Linked DNA regions of Homo sapiens. The protein of the gene in region 2 interacts with the protein of the main gene of each other region in a pairwise test. Each region holds a gene or a part of one and is shown on either strand. Other genes may lie near its edges.

Evidence for each region.
Region 1: the proteins of DCBLD2 (region 2) and SLC7A14 interact in binary tests that used the Homo sapiens proteins (3 or more experiments, as listed by UniProt).
Region 3: the proteins of DCBLD2 (region 2) and SLC60A2 interact in binary tests that used the Homo sapiens proteins (3 or more experiments, as listed by UniProt).

What each region holds. Positions count from the first base shown.
Region 1 is NC_000003.12:170,464,076-170,471,189, reverse strand, and holds part of SLC7A14 (solute carrier family 7 member 14), read left to right. Parts: intron 1-3,787; exon of another isoform or gene 3,788-3,812; coding exon 3,813-4,135; 3' UTR 4,136-7,114. UniProt on the Homo sapiens protein: Imports 4-aminobutanoate (GABA) into lysosomes. May act as a GABA sensor that regulates mTORC2-dependent INS signaling and gluconeogenesis. The transport mechanism and substrate selectivity remain to be elucidated.
Region 2 is NC_000003.12:98,814,681-98,821,794, forward strand, and holds part of DCBLD2 (discoidin, CUB and LCCL domain-containing protein 2 precursor), read right to left. Parts: intron 5,609-7,114; coding exon 5,568-5,608; intron 4,738-5,567; coding exon 4,522-4,737; intron 3,214-4,521; coding exon 3,089-3,213; intron 1-3,088.
Region 3 is NC_000006.12:111,262,266-111,269,379, reverse strand, and holds part of SLC60A2 (sodium-dependent glucose transporter 1), read right to left. Parts: coding exon 6,955-7,114; intron 5,551-6,954; coding exon 5,434-5,550; intron 3,505-5,433; coding exon 2,261-3,504; 3' UTR 1-2,260. UniProt on the Homo sapiens protein: May function as a sodium-dependent glucose transporter. Potential channels for urea in the inner medulla of kidney.

The DNA.
Region 1 (7,114 bases), about 72 Mb from region 2:
TCCCTTATGTTTTCTGTGCCCACTGTCCTGTTGTCCTGTCTGTGAAGTGTGCAATGCACATAATCACTCACACACACACACACACACACACACACACACCCCTTCCCAGACAGGTTAAAGGGAGTCTAAACAAAACAAGATACTGTTTGTGTAACATTTTGAGCTCTTTGGGACAAAGGTGCAACATCAACCATCCATCATTATCCTAACCCAGCACACAGAAATGCTTTGTGAAGTTTAGTTTAGATGATTCAGGATTCCCAGAACCCCTACAGATTTTTCAGAAACTACCTCATGCTTCATTCTCTAAGCCAACTAAAAAAAGGAGCAGAAACAAAACACCCTGCTTCCACACAGGAGGCGTGGAGCAGCTCTGTTTACTCCTCCGACACAAAGCCCTTGTTTATGTGGGACAGATGGTAATACGTTTCTCTTCTCTTCTCTCTCTCTCCCTCCCTCCCTCCCTTCATCTGTTCCTCTCTGTTTCTTTGTCCCCCTCCATTTTTCTTTTCTCCAATCCTTCTCAGTTTCACACCACTTTTCCTGAATTGACTCAAGGGCCAGCAAGAAAGATAGACACACAGAATGCCAAGCCCTAGGGGAACGGCTTTGCATCTACTATTTACTCTACCAGGCTGCATGCACACGGTCGTTTCTTGTTTCACAGTACTCACATTTGAAATGCATTTTTGAAGACAGAGTGATACACCTTTGAAACTCCAGGGGGTTCAGGGCAAACATGAAAAGACCCATAAATATTTATGTGGCAAGTTTCCATGGATTGTCTTCACAAAGTAAAAAGTAACCACAGTCAATATGTGAGAGCGCGCAGACACAGACACACACACATACACACACACACACACACACACACACACACATGTTCCTTCCAGGCCTGGCCACTCCCAAAGAACACATGTAAACCTCTTATCACATGTTTACTGCAGTGGGCATAGTCTGTAAACCAGCCTGGGGGAGGGGAGAGGAGGTGTGAAGGACTAGACACGCAAGAGACTTCTCTCCCTCCATGTATAAAGCTGGTTCCTCTCCTTCTCAGACCCAGGCAAGTCACTTATTCTTTCCCAGCCTCTGTTTCTTCTTCTGTAAAATGAAGGTTTTAGAATGCATAGGTGATCTATAGCATCTTTTCCAGCTCTAAATATCTATGACTCAAGGTTTTTAGAGAATTCCCATAATATGAATCTATCTGACACCCAAAATACCTTGTGGGGGCAGGGACAGGTCTGTTGGAATCGACAAACCAGTGATGAGTGATGTCAAACCAGTGACTGAACAATGACCTTTGTGGTGGCAGAGGAGAGACGTTTGGGGCAAAGGGAAAAGAAAAAGATGGTATTAAGTTCAGTAGGGAAATGAGTCGTCTATAAGCAAAGTCAGAGAAGGGCATCAGAAAGGAAAGAATTGGCATAATAGGTACCAAGCAGGAGTAGGAGGCAATATTTGGCATCTGCCTGGGTGTCTAGAAGAAAAGATGGCAAAAAAGCAAAGCAGTGCAAAAGGAGGTGTGCACAGGTCCTGCCTGGTCGCCTGAAATCCATTCTCAGATGCCAAACATGCTTCAGACAGAGGCATTCTCCAAGAACCAGCACACTGGCACTCTTAGAAGAGGCCTTAATGTGATGCCCTGTTCTACACAAGGATAATAACCATCCCCCATAGCCACCCCCCACCTACAGAAAAGAAAGAGTAAATACCCTGCTTTTAAAAGATGAATCATTATTTGAGCACTAATAGCTACATCTGCAAATAATTAACTCTAGGATTTATTACCAATTAGGACTATAAATCTGTGCTTACTTTGGCTCCTGGAAAGTTGATTTCACTGGGGAGTGTGGGAGGGAGGGGGGACAAAGTCATTTGAGACAAGGAGGGAGAAATCCAAGCTTAAAAAGGCACACTTCAAATTCAAAAGAGAGCAAGATTTCTCAAGCACCACAGCAGCAAAGCAGGCTTGACTTGCGGTTCTAAGCAAACCAGCCCAGCAGAAGCCTGCAGGGTTAGCAAAGTCAAAGAGACTGGTGCTACTCAGAGGAGGATGTTAGGGCCCGGGAAGGAGGTTGCATACTGTATGGACCCCAGTGCCTAGGCCATAGTGTGGGCTGAGTGGGCAGTGGAACACTGTGCCCATCAGGCACAGTTCATTATCTCAGGGACACTCTGACCATTGGAATCACCTGTGGAGTTTTAAAAACATACCTATGCTTGGGTTATACTGCAGACTAATTAAATCAGAATCTCCAGGATGGGGCTAGGGTATCAGAGTGGTTCAAAAAACACCCCCAGGTGACTTTCAAGTGCAGCCAGGGTTGAGAACCACCACTTACCTCATTTCATCCTCAAGCACTCCCATGTTAAGAGGGTTGCTATAGCTCTCATCGTTTTACAGAGAATGCTGAGGAACAGAGAGGCTAAGTAATGGGACCAGGGTTACACAGCTAACAGTGATGAAGGCAGGATTTGAACACAGAGCCCACAGTCTTACTTATCATGTTCTATGGACTCCAAGGTTATGGTTCCCAGACTTCCAGGCCCTGAACCTTCACAGTCTATTCAAGATAGAAAATGGGGACTCAGGCCAGGACTGATGGCTCATGCCTGTAATCCCAACACATTGGGAAGTGGAAGCAGGCGGATCACTTGAGTCCAAGAATTTGAGACCAGCCTGGGCAACATGGTGAAACTCCATCTCTCAAAAATACAAAAATTAGCTGGGCGTGGTGGCACATGCCTGTGGTCCCAACTACTCGAGAGGCCAAGGCAGGAGAATCGCTTGAGCCCATGAGGCAGAGACTGCAGTGAGCCGAGATCATGCCACTGCACTCCAGCCTGGACAACAGAGTGAGACCCTGTCTCAAAAAAAAAAAGAAAAGAAAAAGAAAATGGGTACTCATAAATGACTTTTATGCATGTTTTTTAAATCATAGAAATGAAACATTAGCATATATGAATGCTACATATTAACGAGGGGGGCAAGTTTCTTTCCTTTGATTGGGATGACATCAACACAGAGGTTGCACTGGACATTTCACGCTTATCAGGAGTTCTCACCCATTCATTCAACAAACATTAAGTGCCAATTTTCTGCAGAGTCTACGACCCTGTGCAGATAATCACACAACAGATGTTCTAAGGGACATAATAGTAGCATGCACTAGACACTCTGAGAGCACACAGAAGAAAGCAGGCAGCTTGGAGTGGCCATGATATATCACGCCTTTAGTGAGTGTAAAATGTCAAGGTAAATCACAGGATAATATATGCATGCTGCTAAGAGGTGAAACATGAGATAGAGTCCCTAACTGGAGGCAGAGAATAATCAAATCTTATAAGAACGTTGGGAATAAACTGTTGCTGATCCATAAATAGTTCACCCAGGGTAGAAAATGCAAATTCCTGGCTGGCAGCTATATGAGTGTAATGAGCCCGACGTCAGCATGGGAGGTGGGGACTGAGGTAACCTAGAGACCCTGTATCCTGTCTAAAGAGGCAGCCAGTTCTCAACACCAGCCAAAAATCACCATGTAGAAATGTGGATGCAGTGTTGTCAGACCTTTTGACTTTTCTAGGAAAATCTGTAAATATGGGTTACTTAACGCAAGATCTCCCAATTTTTAAAAGGCATCTAATTCAAGTATTTTCAAAACACCACATAAAGCAAAGAAAATACATCCCCGCCCCCACCGCCCCCCACCCCGCCAGCTTTGATTTCATCACTGAAGGTGATCTCTCTGCTAGTCCCAGGATCCCAAAGCAATTGCTTATTCACCTGTACCTTTCCCCTCGCCCCACAGGTCTGCTCATTTATTTTGGATATGGCATCTGGAACAGCACCCTGGAAATCAGCGCTCGAGAAGAGGCCCTGCACCAAAGCACGTACCAACGCTACGACGTGGATGACCCCTTCTCAGTGGAGGAGGGTTTCTCCTACGCCACAGAGGGCGAGAGCCAGGAGGACTGGGGCGGGCCCACTGAAGACAAAGGCTTCTATTACCAACAGATGTCAGATGCGAAGGCAAACGGCCGGACAAGTAGCAAAGCGAAGAGCAAAAGCAAACACAAACAGAACTCAGAGGCCCTGATTGCAAATGATGAGTTAGATTACTCTCCAGAGTAGGAGAAACACACAAGTGGGTAGAAATGGTGATGACTGATTTTCAGTAACTTAACCTGTGGGCTAGAAGGTGAAAACTTTTTTGGCTCTCATTTCACAAATCCAGCCTTCCCCAAATTCAATCCCTAGTCATAGCCTGTCATTTGCTACTTTTGCTCTTCAGGATAGTTCTGTTGAAGGGCTTAACCTGGGTCCCCTAACTGGTCGCCTTGTTAAATAAAATAAATAAATAAACAAGAGGCTATATGAAATTCCATCTTAGGTGCAACCACCAGAGCTGATGGTACCAAATGTTTCCTAGGCCTTTGCTTTGCTGGTTGAAGCCCAAGCAGGGGCTCTGGGCAGAAGGCAGAATTTCAGTCACCTGAGACATGGGGACAAAGCTCTGTTCTTGGCATGTCAGGCTGAGTGCTGCTCCCCGAGGTCAGGGTGGGTAGATGGGCATTGGCACTTCCTGAGCAAGCATCATTTTATCCTGCAATCTCACCCAAAATTAATTCATGGAAAAGACACATGCTTCTTTTTATTCACCAACATTCTCACAGCTTCCAAACTATAATTTTAGGATCCAGCAAAGTTCAGGGACTCTGGACCATTTTCCCAATGGTTTCAGATTCACCATAAAGCAGTCAGGCAGACCCAGTGATATGGTAAGAAGCACCATCAAAGCTCTATGTAAATGCCCAGAAGAAAATTAAATAACCATATCTTGCGGTAAAAGCCAGAAGGGCATTGGCAGAAATTAACTCTCTGTCATGGCCTCTCTTATATCAGACTGCAGCTCCTGGTGATATGATGAAAGCGGGCAAAGGTGGAGCATGATTTCATGGCACTGATATGCCTTGAAAAAGTAGGTTGTTTGTTTTATAATCAGATAAAAATTTTTACAAGGAGAAGTGAGCCAGCCACTGAGATCACATTGCAAATTCTCTTTCATATTTCTAAAATTATAAATTCTAAAGTTTTTGAGATAGGCAACCACTTGATTGGTGTGTGCTACTCTGAAAACAAAATAGGCTGAAGTATAGCGACTTAGGTAGTTGCATTCCATGAGATCACATTTCACTTCTGAACCTTATTCCTTGGGGCTAGCTCACTTTCAGAGGTGTATTTTTTTTTCCTGTTATTTCCCAGAGTAGTTTCACTGAAGCCCAGAGAAATATCTACCTGGTAAGATGTAAATTTGGGCCATAAAAGGGGCTATTAAAAGAATTTTCTCAGAAATAGAATAGATGAGAGAATTTGCAAAGGAAAAAAACACACATGGGCTACAATATAAATTCTACTCTTGGGTTACAAGAATTCCTGTGGCTGCACTGAGATACGTACAAATGTATGTGAAGGCACAATTTGAATCAAGCTATCATAGAATTAACCAAGCTATTAAAATTAATCAAGCTATTAATAAAATCTCTGTGAGGATTTCCTGAAAGAGGGACAAAAGAAGAAATTCCTTGTCCTTTCTCTCCTGGATGTATCAGTATGCCAAACGTTTTCCAGAACATATTCGCTAGCACTCAAGTCTGTTCTTTCTGAAAGGCTGAGGCTCATGCCATCTTGGCATGCTTTAGGATTATGGCAAGGAGGTAAAAGTCCATTTTTTCATTCAACTAACACTGGTTGAGAATAGACCCAATGCTAAGTGACAGGAATGAATAGAAGCATGGCACTTGCCCTTGGGGGCTACAGTCCATGGATGAGCAGCACTGGAGCCTGGTAAATGCAGATAAAACAACAAACTTGACAAGTCTCCAGGCTGATGCACTGGGTTTTAACATACATATAAAGATGAATTGAAACTAGTTTTTAAAAAATATGCTTTAAATAAATTACATATCGTAATCATAGCCAATGTATACCATTAAACTAAAATAACTGCAATTTTCTAGATATTTTTTATTCTTCTGTAGTCATTGTTTAGAACTCTGGTTTCCTGAGGTCATTTTGTCATTTTAATATCATGCTTGACAATGCTATGTTTTCTCTTCCCTAGAGTTAACCATAAAGATACAGTGCCTACTCTGTGAAATACAGCATTAGGAATTAATTATAAACTAATTATCAGTCATCTTTTGAAAACAAAGTTTTGAATTGGCTATAGGACTCAACAAATCTGCCTGGTGTAAATAGAATCTGTTAAGCTTGATACATATCTAGATAGATGAGGAGGGGTTGTATTCATTAAGCATGAGAATAGAGAAATAGGAGTGCAAAATGGCAAAATCTTAACGTGGGTGAAAGAGCTTCCTTTTACTAGTGAGGTTTAAGTATTAAAGTAACAATAGCCTGGTGGCAGATGAATGCAATTTCTATAGGATGGGAATGGAAAATGTATGCTTTGGTTAACACCATTGCTGTTGACTTCATGCAGATTCTATTAAGCACTCTCATTTCAGGAGCCATTTTTCCCACATAGTATATTAGTATATTTTAAGCTTAGCTCCCTTTATTTTTCTAAAGTTGATAAATCACCTCCCTAGCAACCTTAGTTTTAAAAAAAAAATCACTAAGATAGAAAAAGTATTTTCAGGTACATAGACATGTTTGTCCTCAGGTTTACCTGCTTCTGTGAACAGTCCCAGATTTTACAATGCAGTTTTCAAATACCATCAATCACTACAATGACAATATTACTATTTTCTTAACAGGTTTCTAAACGATGTATGTGTGGGATCACATTAAAAGTAAGATCACCTTATAATTATCTTAGAAACTTTGCCCCTTGAAGGGAGTCCAAGGAAGACCTACATTTTATTGAATTCTGAATAGCAAAAGCTCTCCGAGTGAGATTTCATTGTGTGGATTTGTGGTTTGGAGCCAATTACTTGATTTTCTTCAGATTTTATTCTACTTATTTATTGGTACTCTGCTTCATTTCAAAAGGATTTGAGGCAGCTACTAAAATATATATAATACAAAACAAAAATTAAGTGAGGAACTCAGAGCAAACAAAAATAGAAACAGAAAGGATAAGACAAAACT
Region 2 (7,114 bases):
TCAGAAAAGGGGTAAAATGAATACACCAATTACCCTTGGGTTGGAGGTGATGAGGGAGCAGATGGACTTACATGAGCGGGAAAAGACTGTTAATTCATACAATTCAATGTGAAGATTTGCATTTCTGACCATAAGAGTAACGGATTAGACTTATTGTTCAGCCCTATACGTACCTGAGAAACTGGATAACAGGCTGCCTTGGGCAATAATGACGGAAAGAAGGGAAACAAATAAGGTGAACCCTGCTATTTATTGCCCCAGTACTGTCTATAGAAGAGTTTCCAGGCCACAGTGCAGGGAGAGAGATCCCTAACAGAGCCTGCCGGTCTCACTGAGTTGCAGAGACAGAGCTGAGAGTGGGAGGCCAATAAGGTAGCTAGAATTTGTAGGCAGAGATTAGGAGAGAAGAGAGCTATAAAGATAGAGTGAGTGAGAGAGAGAGAGAGAGACACTTCTAGAATATATAAGGAGTTATCCCTTAAATCTTCAGCTGCATGTAAAGAAATGACCTATGGCCAGTAAAAGAAACACTGGAATGAGTCAGCAGGACAAGTCTCACAGCTCCGTAGATCTGGGAATTCCTTACACTGCCAAGAGGTAGAACAGAGAAACCTCATAATACATGGGATGCTGCAGTGAGTACTTAGAACAGTATTGTCTCAGTGGGGGAGAAAAATAAGAAAACTGAAGGCTGTCCAGGTCCTGCCTAATGAAGTTTAAAAGCAAGCCTTGAAAATATCACATTGTTTCCAGTAGCTTAACTACATTCCAGAATAAAGCTCAAAAATACTTAAGGGAATATTAATAACAAAAAACCCCAGCACCAAACAATGTAACACAATGTCTGGCATCCAATAAAAAAAATTCGGGCAGGTAAAATATGATCCATAATATCAATCAACATAAAAAGACCCATATATGACATAGGATAACATTAGCAGATGAGGATATTAAAAGAGCTATTATATATGCTCCATGTTCCAGAGATAGAGAAAAGCATGAGCATGTAAAGACACACTGGAGACATCTTAAAACTCCCAAACTGAACATCTAGAGATAAAAAATACAGTATCAGAGATAAAAATACATTGGATGGGATTAACAGATTAGACATTTCAGAAGAATAGATTAGTGAACTTGAAGACAAAACAGAAAACTTTCAAACTAAAATACAAAGAGAAAAAGACTGAAAAAAATAAAGAACGGAGCATTGGTGAATGGTAAGATACCTTCAAGGGTCATAATATTCATAAAATTAGAATTGGGGAAGGGAAATATTTGAAAAAAAAAGAACTACAATTTTCTAAATTTGATGCAAATCATAACCTACAGATCCAAAAACCTCAAAGAACCCCACGCAAAAAAAAAAGAAGAAAAATATAAAAAAGCCACATCAATCAAACTGCTTAAAACAAATGATAAAAAGAAAACCTTAAAAGGAGCCACAGAAAAAAAGACATATCACATATTGAGGAACAGAAATAATAGCAGAATTCTTGTCAAAAACAATGCAAGCCAGCAAACAGCAGACAACGTATTTCAATTATTGAAAGGAAAAACCAAAAAAAAAAAAAAACCAAAAAACCACTGATCAACCCAGATTTCTACACTTAGAGAAATTACCTTTCAAAAATGAATGCAACATAGAATCTTTTTCAGAAATATCATTTAATGTTTAGAAGTTTTTATAGTATAAGCCTGAACAATTCTTAACATTCCAAAAATTTAGCTATATTCCACAAGCAAAATAAATGTGATACAAATGAATATGGATGTGGCAGGAGTAAAGAGTAGTCAAGTTTAGGGGCATGAGGTAGAAGATATGTATGGAGACAGTATTGTTATTTTCTTTAACAGGGAGAGGCTCACCAAAGATGAAGTTCATGTGACGCCAAGTAGAAGAGAAGAAAGAGGCCTTGAATAAAAGCAGAGGAGTTAAGATGCATATGAAAGATAATGAGCCCCTGGAGGTTTTTGAACAAAGAGATGAGAAAAGTAGTAATTGAAGACTTTTTAGCAAATCATACATGATAAAAAACAAAAATATATAATCAAAATCAAACTCATAGGAAAGTTTGAAAAAATGTCATCATTGTTTCAGTTCTTTTTTTTCCACTTTGAGACAGAGTCTCCCTCTGTCGCCCAGGCTGGATTGCAGTGGAGTGATCACAGCTCACTGCAGCCTCAACCTCCTGGGTTCAGGTGATTCTCCCACCTCAGCCTCCCAAGAAACTGGGACTACAGGCATGCGCCACCATGCCTGGCTAATTTTCTGTATTTTTAGTGGAGATGGCGTGTTGCCATGTTGCCCAGGCTGGTTTCAAACTCCTGAGCTCAAGCAATCCCAAAGTGCTGTGATTACAGGAGTGAGCCATCATGCCCAGCCCCATAGTTTTGGTACTGATGGGAGACATCTATCTTCCTTAGGCACAAGGACTTCTCCATTTAAAGATCAAAGGGATACACATCTGAATAAGACCCATCTCTGCCTGCTCCCCACCCCTTATCATTTCCTCTGGCTCATTCCAGCATCTTCATAAATTGTTGCTAACTAAAACAAAGATTCCATAATTAGATGCTAGAGCAATTCTTCATGTAAGAAAAAACAGAAGTTTCCCAAGATGAAAGTTGGTGAGATGATCTTCAGATGAATTTTCATCTCTAATATCCTATAATTTAATGCACGTTGGTTTTCAGCTTTTTTCTTTTTTTACCTCTTGCCTACAGAGTAGAAATCTGGGAACAAAGGCTCTCCATCATCTGGTGAATTGAAAAAAGCTTCATAAAAATAAGAAATTACAAGGTCCCTTTTAGACTTTCTTAATAAAGTGTCTAAACAATTCAATTAAAAATGCAATGACAAAAATCAGAAAAGTACTCACCGTTACAATCACCAAAAGGAACCTAGAACTACTGAGAATTTTCTAAAGTCAGTAGAGTAAGGCCAATAACACTACCTAAAATAACCACAAGAGGGTAGTATAAGACATTCTAAACTTCTACATCTCTTTTATACAGGAGAGCTCTGTGACTTGGCAACCACCCATTTAAAAAATGTTTTTTAAAAATACCTTGGTAATCATTTTACCTTATCTTGCTCCACACCAGGCTCTCTGTACACAGTCCATTTCTGCCCATCATCACTGTACAGGATTCTGTAGGCAGACACATAGTAATTGTGCTCCACCATGGTGGATCCAGTGGTTATAATGCCTGGGGAATGAAGAGTTGCTTTCATTAATGCACATGGTCTGATTCCCTAAGTTTGTTCAGCATCAAAGTATAAACACTTGAAATGCACAGCTCGAACATTTCTAATTATGGCTCATTTCCATATCCAAGTGCACGTTTTTGTCATAACAATTACTAAATCCTTGGCCTTATTCCCTTGGAGAGAGAGGAAGGATTATGGGTGGGCATTAATTAAGTAAAGAACTATTCTGTTTTGGTGTCTTGTGTTTATAACGTCGTAAAATAGATTTTGACTACTGGGTAAGATGACTTCCTGGGAATGAACAGATTAAAGATGATTATTGGTATTATTTACAGTACCAAAACAAAATAAATATTTTAACAAAATTAAACCAATCCCAACCAATTATTCCGACCATTTGCTAAGTTCCCCTAAATTAAATTTATACTCTCCACATGTGGAAAATTAATGATCTCATCATTTAAAATGGACTCCTTTAACATAAATTTCTCTTAATGACTGTAGGAGACCGTTATTTTAGATGTCTCAAGACCACTTTACTGAAACACTACCTTAAAAAAAGAGTCTCATTACAATGGAAACAAAAAGCTATTACGAATTAAATACTGTGATGGTTAATACTGAGTGTCAACTTGATTGAAGGATGAAAAGTATTGTTCCCAGGTGTGTCTGTGAGGGTGTTGCTAGAGGAGATTAACATTTGAGTCAGTGGACTAGGACACGCAGACCCACCCTCAATCTGGGTCGGCACCATTTAATCTGCATCAGCACGGCCAGAATAAAAACAGGCAGAAGAAAATGTGAAAAGACTAAACTGGCTTAAGTCTCCCAGCCTACATCTTTCTCCCATGCTGGATGCTTCCTGCCCTTGAACATCAGACTCCAAGTTCTTAGCTTTGGGACTTCTGGACCTTTGACCATAGACTAAAAGCTGCACTGTTGGCTTCCCTACTTTTGAGGTTTTGGGACTCGGAATGGCTTCCTTGCTCCTCAGCTTGCAGATGGCCTACTGTGGGACTTCACTTTGTGATCATGTGAGTCGATACACCTTAATAAACTCCCCTTTATATATACATCTGTCCTATCAGTTGTGTCCTTTTAGAGAACCCTGACCAACACAAATAACTCCTTTTCTCTGCCATGTTTCATAAAATGTGTCTCTAGTAATATTAACATCAGTGAAGAAAATATAAAACCATATAATTACAATTTTAATGCCTTAATTTTCTCTGAAAATCTTAGATGTTACTAGTTTTTCAAATAAAATAAGTGTTACAAATTGCTTTAGAAAATTTTTGTCTCTTAACCTGTTATTTTCTTTTCCTTATTCAAATCTATTTGTAACCACTGGTATTCATCAGTGGCAAAAGCAGCCCAAGGCGGTCCAGGTTTTTTCAGCCTGGCTTTTTTGGGTTTCCAACTGTTCTCTTGCCCTGTGTGGTCAGTCCACTCCAGCACAGATGATGCTGTTATTTGAGGATCCGCGATCACACCAGACTCCATCCCCAGTGTTCCATAACATCCTGAAACAAAGAAAAGACTAAATTTGGTTTCCAGGTATAATTTCAAAATGCATGTAGACCTGCTCACTGAAAACTTTCTATTCCATCTTTAATTAACATACACTACACTAATAATACACTGTAACAGAGAAATTTCAAAACTAGGCAAGTGTTTCTTGGGCATATGTCTTTGTGTATCATTAGGAAACCTACAAACATGCTCATTTATAAGCATGACTGTTAGTTTAATGGAGATACATTATCTTCTCCCTGGGACACTCTTCCCAAATAACTGAGTAACTCACTCCTTTACCTCCTTCAGGTTTTTGGCCTATGTTGCATTCTCCCTGAGGTCTTCCCTGGGAGGAAGGCCCTTCCCAACTTCAATCCAGTCCTCCTTATTTTCCTACATCTTTTATCATATTGTAAACAGTACATTATAAACAGAAATTTATTCATTGCTTATCATCAATCTCTCACTACTAGAATGTAAGCTCCAGGAAGGCAGGAGTTTGTTCACTTTACTCTATCACTCGAACCAGAGCAATGCCTGGCACATAAAGAGAAGGCACTCAGTAAGTATTTTCTGTTGAACGAATTGATTACTTCTTCAGACAAGTTCAAAAGTCATCTTTCTTAAGGAACCTTCCTTGCTTACATGACCATTTCTCTATAAATATAAAACTTTCAATTTGCTCTATTCATTATATTATTAGATAACTATCTTACCTCATAGTGTTATTAAGACAACTACGTGAGAAAGTACAATAAATCAGCAACTGACACAGTGCCTAACAGTGTTCAAAAAATATTATATAAATAAAAAATTATAAAGTCCATAAAAGGCTTACCACTTGTCTTAAATGTAAAAAGACTTGTAGATAAGTGTCCCCTGAAAGAGAGAAGGGTTTTTTTTGGTGATACTCACATAACACATGATGCCCCATATTTAGTGAAACATTTTCTTTTGATTTGGTTCCCCCCACCCAATAAAAGAACCAAGAAGACTGTGTGGCTAAAAATTAGACAACTAATATTGTTCCTAGGAAAAAAGTCTCATTTCTAAGCAGGACAACTTCTGAAATCAGCATAAACAGCTTTCTCTACAAGTATCTAGCACCCAGTTTCATATGTGATTGTGCAAAAGTTCTCTATGTAATCTTTAATATGTACTTCTTTTTCATATGTATTTACTCATTGTTTACTGTCAATCTCTCACTACTTTATTTCATGAAATAAATGGATTCTTAACACTTTTCTGTGGCAAATGCTTTCGATGAAAATACACTAAAAGGTCTAATTCTCAGAGAATGAGGCTCAAGTTTTTTCGGATAAACATGAGAAAAGTTGGGTACTAATAGATTTCTTTTTCTTTTTTTTTTTTTTTTTAGGAGAAATCAACATCTCATGGAAGAAGTTTCAGTGTACACTCCTGCCTTTAGTCCAACATACAAACCATTACAAGAGGATGCAATTTATCCCTGTTTTCTTTTTTAAAGTATGAAAGAGAGAATTCACAAACACTAAATCTTTCTAAAGGTATAACATGGTAAAGGAATGAAAGGGTCTGCATAAAATAATCTAGAAAAAAAAAAAAAAAAAGAAGGGAAGGTAGTTGAATCTATACCAGGGATGGGCAAATGACTGCCCATGCATGGCCTGTTTTGTATGGGCCGTGAGTTAAGAATAAAGAGCTATAAATAAAACAAAAAAAGAATAAGCTGCAGCGACATGTGGCCTGTAAAGCCTAAAATATTTATTAGCTGGATCTTTACAGAACAAATCTGCTGAATCCTGTTGTATACCAATCTGGATATGGATGATGCTTGTGTCTTCTGAATGAAAATTGGCCTAGGACCTCTGAAGAAAAGCTGGTTTCAATTAGGCTTAGTGTTGTCTGAAAGACTGAGCAGATCTAAGAGACAAGATTTATAAAAACAGATTGCTAACACTGCATTTCTATTTAATGTTTCAATTTCTCTTGCTTTTGATGCCTACCCTACGTTTTATAAAACAGTAGAACACTATAGTTACCATGAAAATACATCTTCAAAATATTCTCTTAGAATGAAAGGAAGATTCACAATAATGCTTATGATGTAACACTTTATGTCAAACTTAAATTTATATTTAAAGTATTTCAATTATCTTGAATCCCCATGTGCTATAAGGAACACAGTAGTTAAGCCTTTCAATCTGTAAAATAAATAAGGATTTGGCAACAAACTTCTAGACTCTTATGTAGACTTTTTTTTAACACTTAGAAAAGACAGAAGAAACACATTACTCTTCCAAATGACTACATTTTTGAAGAACAATAAGCTAAAGTAGTACAACACCACCTGTACTCTTCAAAATATGCAGACACTGGCTGGGCACGGTGGGTCACGCCTGTAAT
Region 3 (7,114 bases), on a different chromosome or scaffold from region 2:
AAAAACACAAAAATTAGCTGGGCATGGTGGCGCATGCCTGTAATCCCAGCTACTCAGGAGGCCGAGGCAGAAGAATCGCTTGAACCAGGGAGGCAGAGGTTGCAGTGAGCTGAGATCACGTCATTGCACTCCAGCCTGAGTGACAGAGTGAGACACCATCCCCCACCCCTAATAAATAAATAAAAATAAAAAGAGCAAGAAGGTTTTTACCATTAACTTCTCCACCGCCATCTCCAAAGCTGTTAGGTTATTACATGAACCAAGACTGTGGCAGGCATATAAGGTGAATGGGCGGGCAGTGGTCAAGAAAGACACTGTATTTTACTTGAGACAAAACAATGGCAAATTTATAGAAATTAAGTAAGAGAAAGCAAGCCTACTCCAATCAGGTAGAAAGGAGATGTTATTCAGCAAAAAATTGGAGGAAGTAAACAAAATTTCATCAATTCTTGTCATTTTTCAAAGGATCACCTGCACCAATTCTGCCACATATATATGAAGTACCCTTTCTGATCCTTGACTCCTAGGCTACCCAGTCACCTTCTAACTGGTTTCCCAGGTATTTCAGACTCAGGAAAGAGAAACCCTGGATCGGTGACACAAGTATTCCAATCACTGGAAAAGACTATGCCTCACTGTAAATTACACTTGCAGCGTGACCTACGGTAACTACGATATGATTACCACACAGACCTGGTGAAGAGCTAATCTCGAGCAAGGCTCAGACCCAGCCTCTGTTACTGAGGTAGGCAAAGGACCTCGAAAGACCCCATCTACAGCCCTACTACTAATCTAATAACACTGAAACAGTTCTTAAAATTAGAACATAGTGTCTCCAAATTCCACTTGAACATAGAATATTAGCATATAAAAATAACTTATTTTTAAAATGTCTGTAAAGATACTATCATAATTGAATGAATTACTGTATTTCACTGAATCTAAGCCACTGATTGTAAAACACATTATTTTATATATACATATGGGAAAAAACTGTCCATTAAACTTTGTCACAATGTTAAACGATCACTGATTGTAAGACACATTCTGATTTCAGATATGTTAACAGTATGGGGGTAAAAAGTGCAACTTAGAATCAATGAAATGCAGTACTAAAAAATATATTCTTCAGGTAATTATTCAAATAAGGTATTAAACATTAAGTACATTAAATTGACATGTAATCATTTATCATTAGCACATTCTTAAAGCTATTTATCATTTTGGTTTCACTTCTCATTTGAAATGAAGAACATGCTGTCACTTGTACTAATTTCTAGCAGACATTTTGCACAAACTTTAAAACTTACAGATTCCCAATTTGGAAATCATCTCATTTTCATTTCTAGAATCACAGATCAGGAGGCGAGATAAACAAGGCCTACGTTAAGTGACAGAGTGCAGGGCTAGAAGAAGTCAAGGCTTGAAGCCCGACCCCTTGGGCCCTGTTCTGTGTTCTCTTCATTGAAATTAGAAATCAAATGAGTCATTACATTCTTTGATCCAACCCTACAGATAAGGTAAAGCAATTAATAAAAATACCTCTCCATTTCTTTTTTGAGACGGAGTCTAGATGTCGCCCAGGCTGGAGTACGGTGTGGCATGATCTCGGCTCACTGCAAGCTCCACCTCCCGGGTTCACGCCATTCTCCTGCCTCAGCCTCCCAAGTAGCTGGGACTACAGGTGCCTGCCACCACGCCTGGCTAATTTTTTGTATTTTTAGTAGAGACAGGGTTTCACTGTGTTAGCCAGGATGGTCTCGATCTCCTGACCTCGTGATCTGCCCGTCTCGGCCTCCCAAAGTGCTGGGATTACAGGCTTTAGCCACTGCACCCGGCCCATTTCTCTTTTATGAAACTATTCTCCTCAACTTTCCTGGAAAAATATTGATACCTGATAATTTGTTCAACCAATCAATTCAACTCCTACATGGTCTCATTCTGAGAATACCCCCCTTCTCAAAAACAATGCCTTCTTTGGGTGCTCTGAGGGGTGGAGACCATAAAATATTTCCTAATCAGTCACATGTCAAATGATAGCGTTATAACAAGATCCTATTGTACGTGTATGAGACCATTTGGTTATTTATGGAAGACTCTGGGAATTACAGAACATTTCAAAAATTTTTAGCATTTGCTATAATATGGACCTAAAAATTTTAATCCCCAAAGCATGGTGAAATTCTGCTAATGCTCTGCTCTGAATGGCGTCCTTAGAAGTGGCAGTTATTCAAAGATGTCAGTGAGTAATCCATCTTCTCTAAACGTTAGTCCCTTTTGTCCTGGTTTCTGGCAAGTGCTTCACATGGGCACTGCCAGTATTAAAAGGAGAAGACTCAAACACCAGTGCATTTGATGGGTATTGATTATAGACTTCAGCTGTGGGCTCCGTCAGACTACTTCTAGATGTCTCTATTATAGAATGCCTCATTGTATCATTCGTTTCAATCATTTCAAAATCCATTTCATTCCATTTTTCTGCATCCTCCTCTTCATTCTCTTCCTCATATTCATTTAGCCCGGAGCTAGAGAGCAGAGCTTTCTGGTCCTCACTCTTTCTGTCTTCTTTTCGCTGGCGATCAAGAGGTGAAGTGGCTAATTTATATAGCACAGGAAATAAAATACCAGTAGCTATTGATGCTCCCAAAGAGGTATACAGAACTACAGGCAAATCAGGGTATTTTCCTTGAAGAATTCCAATGACTGCAGGAATAGCCATTTCTCCCAGGGAAGCACCAATTACAAAAAATGCTGCAGATTTCCCATGGATGGTCGTGTACTGCTCAATCCAAGAAACACCACTCGGAAATGTGGTTGCCATTGAAGCCCCATACACTGAAGTTGCTATCCAGAGACAAATTGGGTTCTTGTCAAAAAGCACCAGAAATAAAGATGAAGTCAGGCTGCCAATGTTGCTCAACACAATCATGGTTCCAGGCTGTAAACAGGTAGCAAAAAAGATTGCCAGGCCCCTGCAGGCTGCAAATGTCCCCCAGAAGATGGAGTTCAACCCAGCAGCTTCACTTTCTTTCATGCCAGCATGGGTGGTTGCAAATGAGAAAACATAAGAGCCATATGTTACCTCAGCTCCAACATAAAAAAAGAAGAACAGAAAAAGGAGACAAAGAAGGGCGTTGTGATATTTTGCTCTTCGAAATGTCTCAGCAGATGCTCTTGCTTTTTCTTGCTTTGAGCTATTCTTTAAAAACAGACAAAAAAAAATGACAGAAACTAAGAACATGTAAGTACCGATAACAGCATAAGCCCACAGTAAATTCTTATCATTAGGTACTCCAAACAGAGCTTCTGAGTCAGCATCAGATGATTGGTTGAGTGCAGGATGGAAGTCAGACTCTGTGTGGTTTTCAGCAGACGCTGTCGGACCCAAAGCCAGTTTAGCTAGCAGTGGAGCCAAAAAGGCACCCAAGGCAAAAGAGAAGTGTAAGGCCTGCATATGTGGGGCTCCTTTGTCCCCCCAAATAGCCAAGATAAGGACGTTACCACCTGTCGATGAAAGATGGGAAAAATTATTTAAGTTAAACAGTTACTTACTTATTAAAAAAAAAAGTTCACTTATCAGAAAGGGGGTGAGTCTATTTTACATAGCACAAGCATTATAATATTCTAATTATCAAACATTGCAACTAAATCAATTCTGAGAAAGGAATTCTAACCCACTACCACCAGACAACTCTAAGCATTATAACATCACATACTCACAAATCGAATTCTACAGTCTAGTAGACTACTACCTCCTAGAACCAAGCACATTAGCAAGACGCTTTTTATAATACAGTTCTAACATCAGACTGCAGAAGAAATATTTATATATTAATATTTTAAATATATATTTAAAAGGCAAAATTTTATCATCAGATAGTAGCCAAATTACCAAAGCTTTCTGTACTTGCTGTTGGTAGCCACTTGAGGAAAATTACTTACTTATGTATGTAACAGATGCAAAACACACGTCCAGGAACCTGAATAGCCAGGATTCTGGTATGCCCATTAGAGGAAACAAGGACACCGTTTAGCATCTGAATTTATACTGTCTAAACGTCTAGGAGGAGAAAGGCAAGAAGCAGCACATCTTGAGCTATCTTCTTTTTTTTCAACAGATATTTTCAGATAAATATATAATTCTACCCTATAATTTCATAACAAAATTAACCCTAAAGTAAAATAAAATATTTCCTCAACAGATCACGTAACAGCAAAGCAGGGAAGGGAGGGGTAGAAAGCTGGTTTTAGGAGTAAACAGATGTCATCTATGTTATTTAGTAGGTTTTCTGTTTGTTTGTTTTTGAGACCCTGGCTGGAGTGCAATGGCACAATCGTGGCTCTCTGCAACCTCCACCTCCTGGGTTCAAGCAATTCTCCAGCCTCAGCCTCCTGAGTAGCTGGGATTACAGGCACGCGCCACCATGCCTGGCTCATTTTATATTTTTAGTAGAGACGCGGTTTCTCCATATTGGTCAGGCTGGTCTTGAACTCCTGACCTCAGGTGATCTGCCCGACACAGCCTCCCAAAGTGCTAGGATTATAGGCGTAAGCCACCCCGCCGTTATTTAGTAGGTTTTTTTTTTTTTTTTGAGATGGAGTCTCACTCTGTCACCCAGGCTGAAGTGCAGTGGTGTGATCTCTGCTCACTGCAAGCTCCGCCTCCTGGGTTCATGCCATTCTCCTGCCTCAGCCTCCCGAGTAATTGGGACTACAGGCGCCCACCACCACACCCGGCTAATTTTTTGTATTTTTAGTAGAGATGAGGTTTCATTGTGTTAGCCAGGATGGTCTCGATCTCCTGACCTCGTGATCCACCCATCTCGGCCTCCCAAAGTGCTGGATTACAGGTGTGAGCCACCGCACCCGGCCTATTTAGTAAGTTTTAAAAGACATGATGATGATACGGGAAAGAATCTACTGCAGGAGGCCAGGAACTTTGAGGACAGAAAGAAAAAGAAAGAGCCTAGTCCACACTATGGATCTCTCTTGGCTTGGAAGTCAGGGTAAATGTCAAGTTGGATTGCTGCTTCTATGCTTTCTCAGCCAAATAACAGTTCCAAACTTGGTTTAACCTATTAAACCACCAATTCCTCCCATACTAGAGCAATAAAGTTCTACCCCAAGATGAAGGCCTATTCACCTGCACTGTAATTACCCACACAGGGGCCCTTCCCTGTTTGGACAATGTAAATCAATTATCTCTCATAGAACAAAATTCTTTAAGTTCATTTCAGAGTTGGCTGCTCAGAAACAGGCCCCCTAATTGGCAAGAATAGCTGCTAGAAGGGTGATTCATTCTGAGTGACTCACAACCAACTCAGTAGGTCTGTGTCATTTTAGGGGGCATTGCAAGTGACAGTTTAGTATCATCTGCTGTACTTCTTCTAGCAAGTCCCTACTCCCAGAGATGACGTTGAAGAGCTCACTAACCTGTATCCAGAATGCCAATTGAAACACCGAAGATAGACATCATGACAGTGAGTAATATTGCTGTCTTGCAAAAAGGAACAAGATAAAGACCAACGGTGGTAGCCGACATTGAGATTCCTGGGAAGGTAGAAACTCAGCTATAAAAAATAATATCCATGCAGTCATGGATCAAGTCAATATCATAAATGTCCAAACATGCAAAATCAGGTCAAATTTAAATTAGATAATGAGTAGATGAGAGTTTTTGCTTCTAAAAGTGATTATTTCATTTGAATCTTTTATAATCTTTATGGATTATGAAATATAAATAATTATAACACAAATACATTTAAAGCACTGCTAGTAATCAAACTGTAAATTATACCATAAGGCAAAGTTTTATACCAAAAGAGACAAGCCAAAACTAATTTAAATGATTCACATTTAAGAACCTAACAGGAATTTTTAGACATGAGGCAAAAAATTAAATAGACAAAAATAAAATGCAATTACTAGAGTAGTTTGTAATAAAATTTACTAAATAAATTAGTTTGGGAAATAGGGAGGAAAATACAAGAAATATGTTATTTCAACCCACTTTGGAAATAAGAGGGATTATTTATTAATTCCTTAACAATAACAAATTATTCTTGCTTCCAAAACAATTTTATCATATTAATCTAAATTTTCTCTAAATATTTCAATTTATTCAAAAAAAGTATATGCTAAAAGCTTTGCCAGCCCAGGCGTGGTGGCTCACACCTGTAATCCCAATACTCTGGGAGGCTGATCCTTTGAGCTCAGGAGTTCCAGACCAACCTGGGCAACATGGTGAAACCCCGGCTCTACTAAAAACACAAAAATTAATCAGGCATGGTGGCTCACACCTGTGGTCCCAGTTAATTGGAAGGCTGAGATGGGAGGATCGCTTGAGCCCAGGAGGGGGAGGTTGCAGTGAGCAGAGATCGCATCACTGCACTCCAGCCTGGGCAATAGAGGGAGAGGAGACCCTGTCTCAAAAAAAAAAAGCAGCTTTGCCATCTATTTCCAGGGTGAGACAGAGCACTCTGGGGTTGTCCAACGACAACATGGGGCAGCAGGAACAAAAACATAGCCTACATCAGTCCACCCAACCTCGCTTCCCCTCTTCATTCCCAATCCAGGGTGTAGCCTGGGCAGGTTCAAAGAGCTCATTCTGATCTGTGGTGACCCCAGGAAATCTGCCCTAAACCCTCTAAGCAGAGTTTTTTGGACAACCAGTGTGTGATCCAGGAGTGGTAGCTAAATTATAGTGGTTGGAAAGGCTAAGGATTGCTAAGACACTCTAGAGCTAATCTAAATTTCCAGAGGGACCCAGCACAGATACCCTCTAACTGTCAAGATGAAAGCAGGTACCAGGGAAACTCAACTGCCATTGAGGACACCTAAACACTACCCATTTCAGTGGCCAACCATTCTGCATGCTAGTATTTTCATATTTTCAAAGACAACTTGTAAATTCACTTGACAGTCATAAAGAAGCTAAAATTAGCATTTACTTACCCAAAAGTAAAAAATAATTCATGACATCGACAAGAAATCCACCAATCACAGAGCCACTCAAATATCCCAAGGCACGACCCACAAAAATGAAAGACAGACTACTGATATTTCGGTTCACGTTTGTTGCCAAATCTTGAAACGTGGGTCCCACTATAGCAAC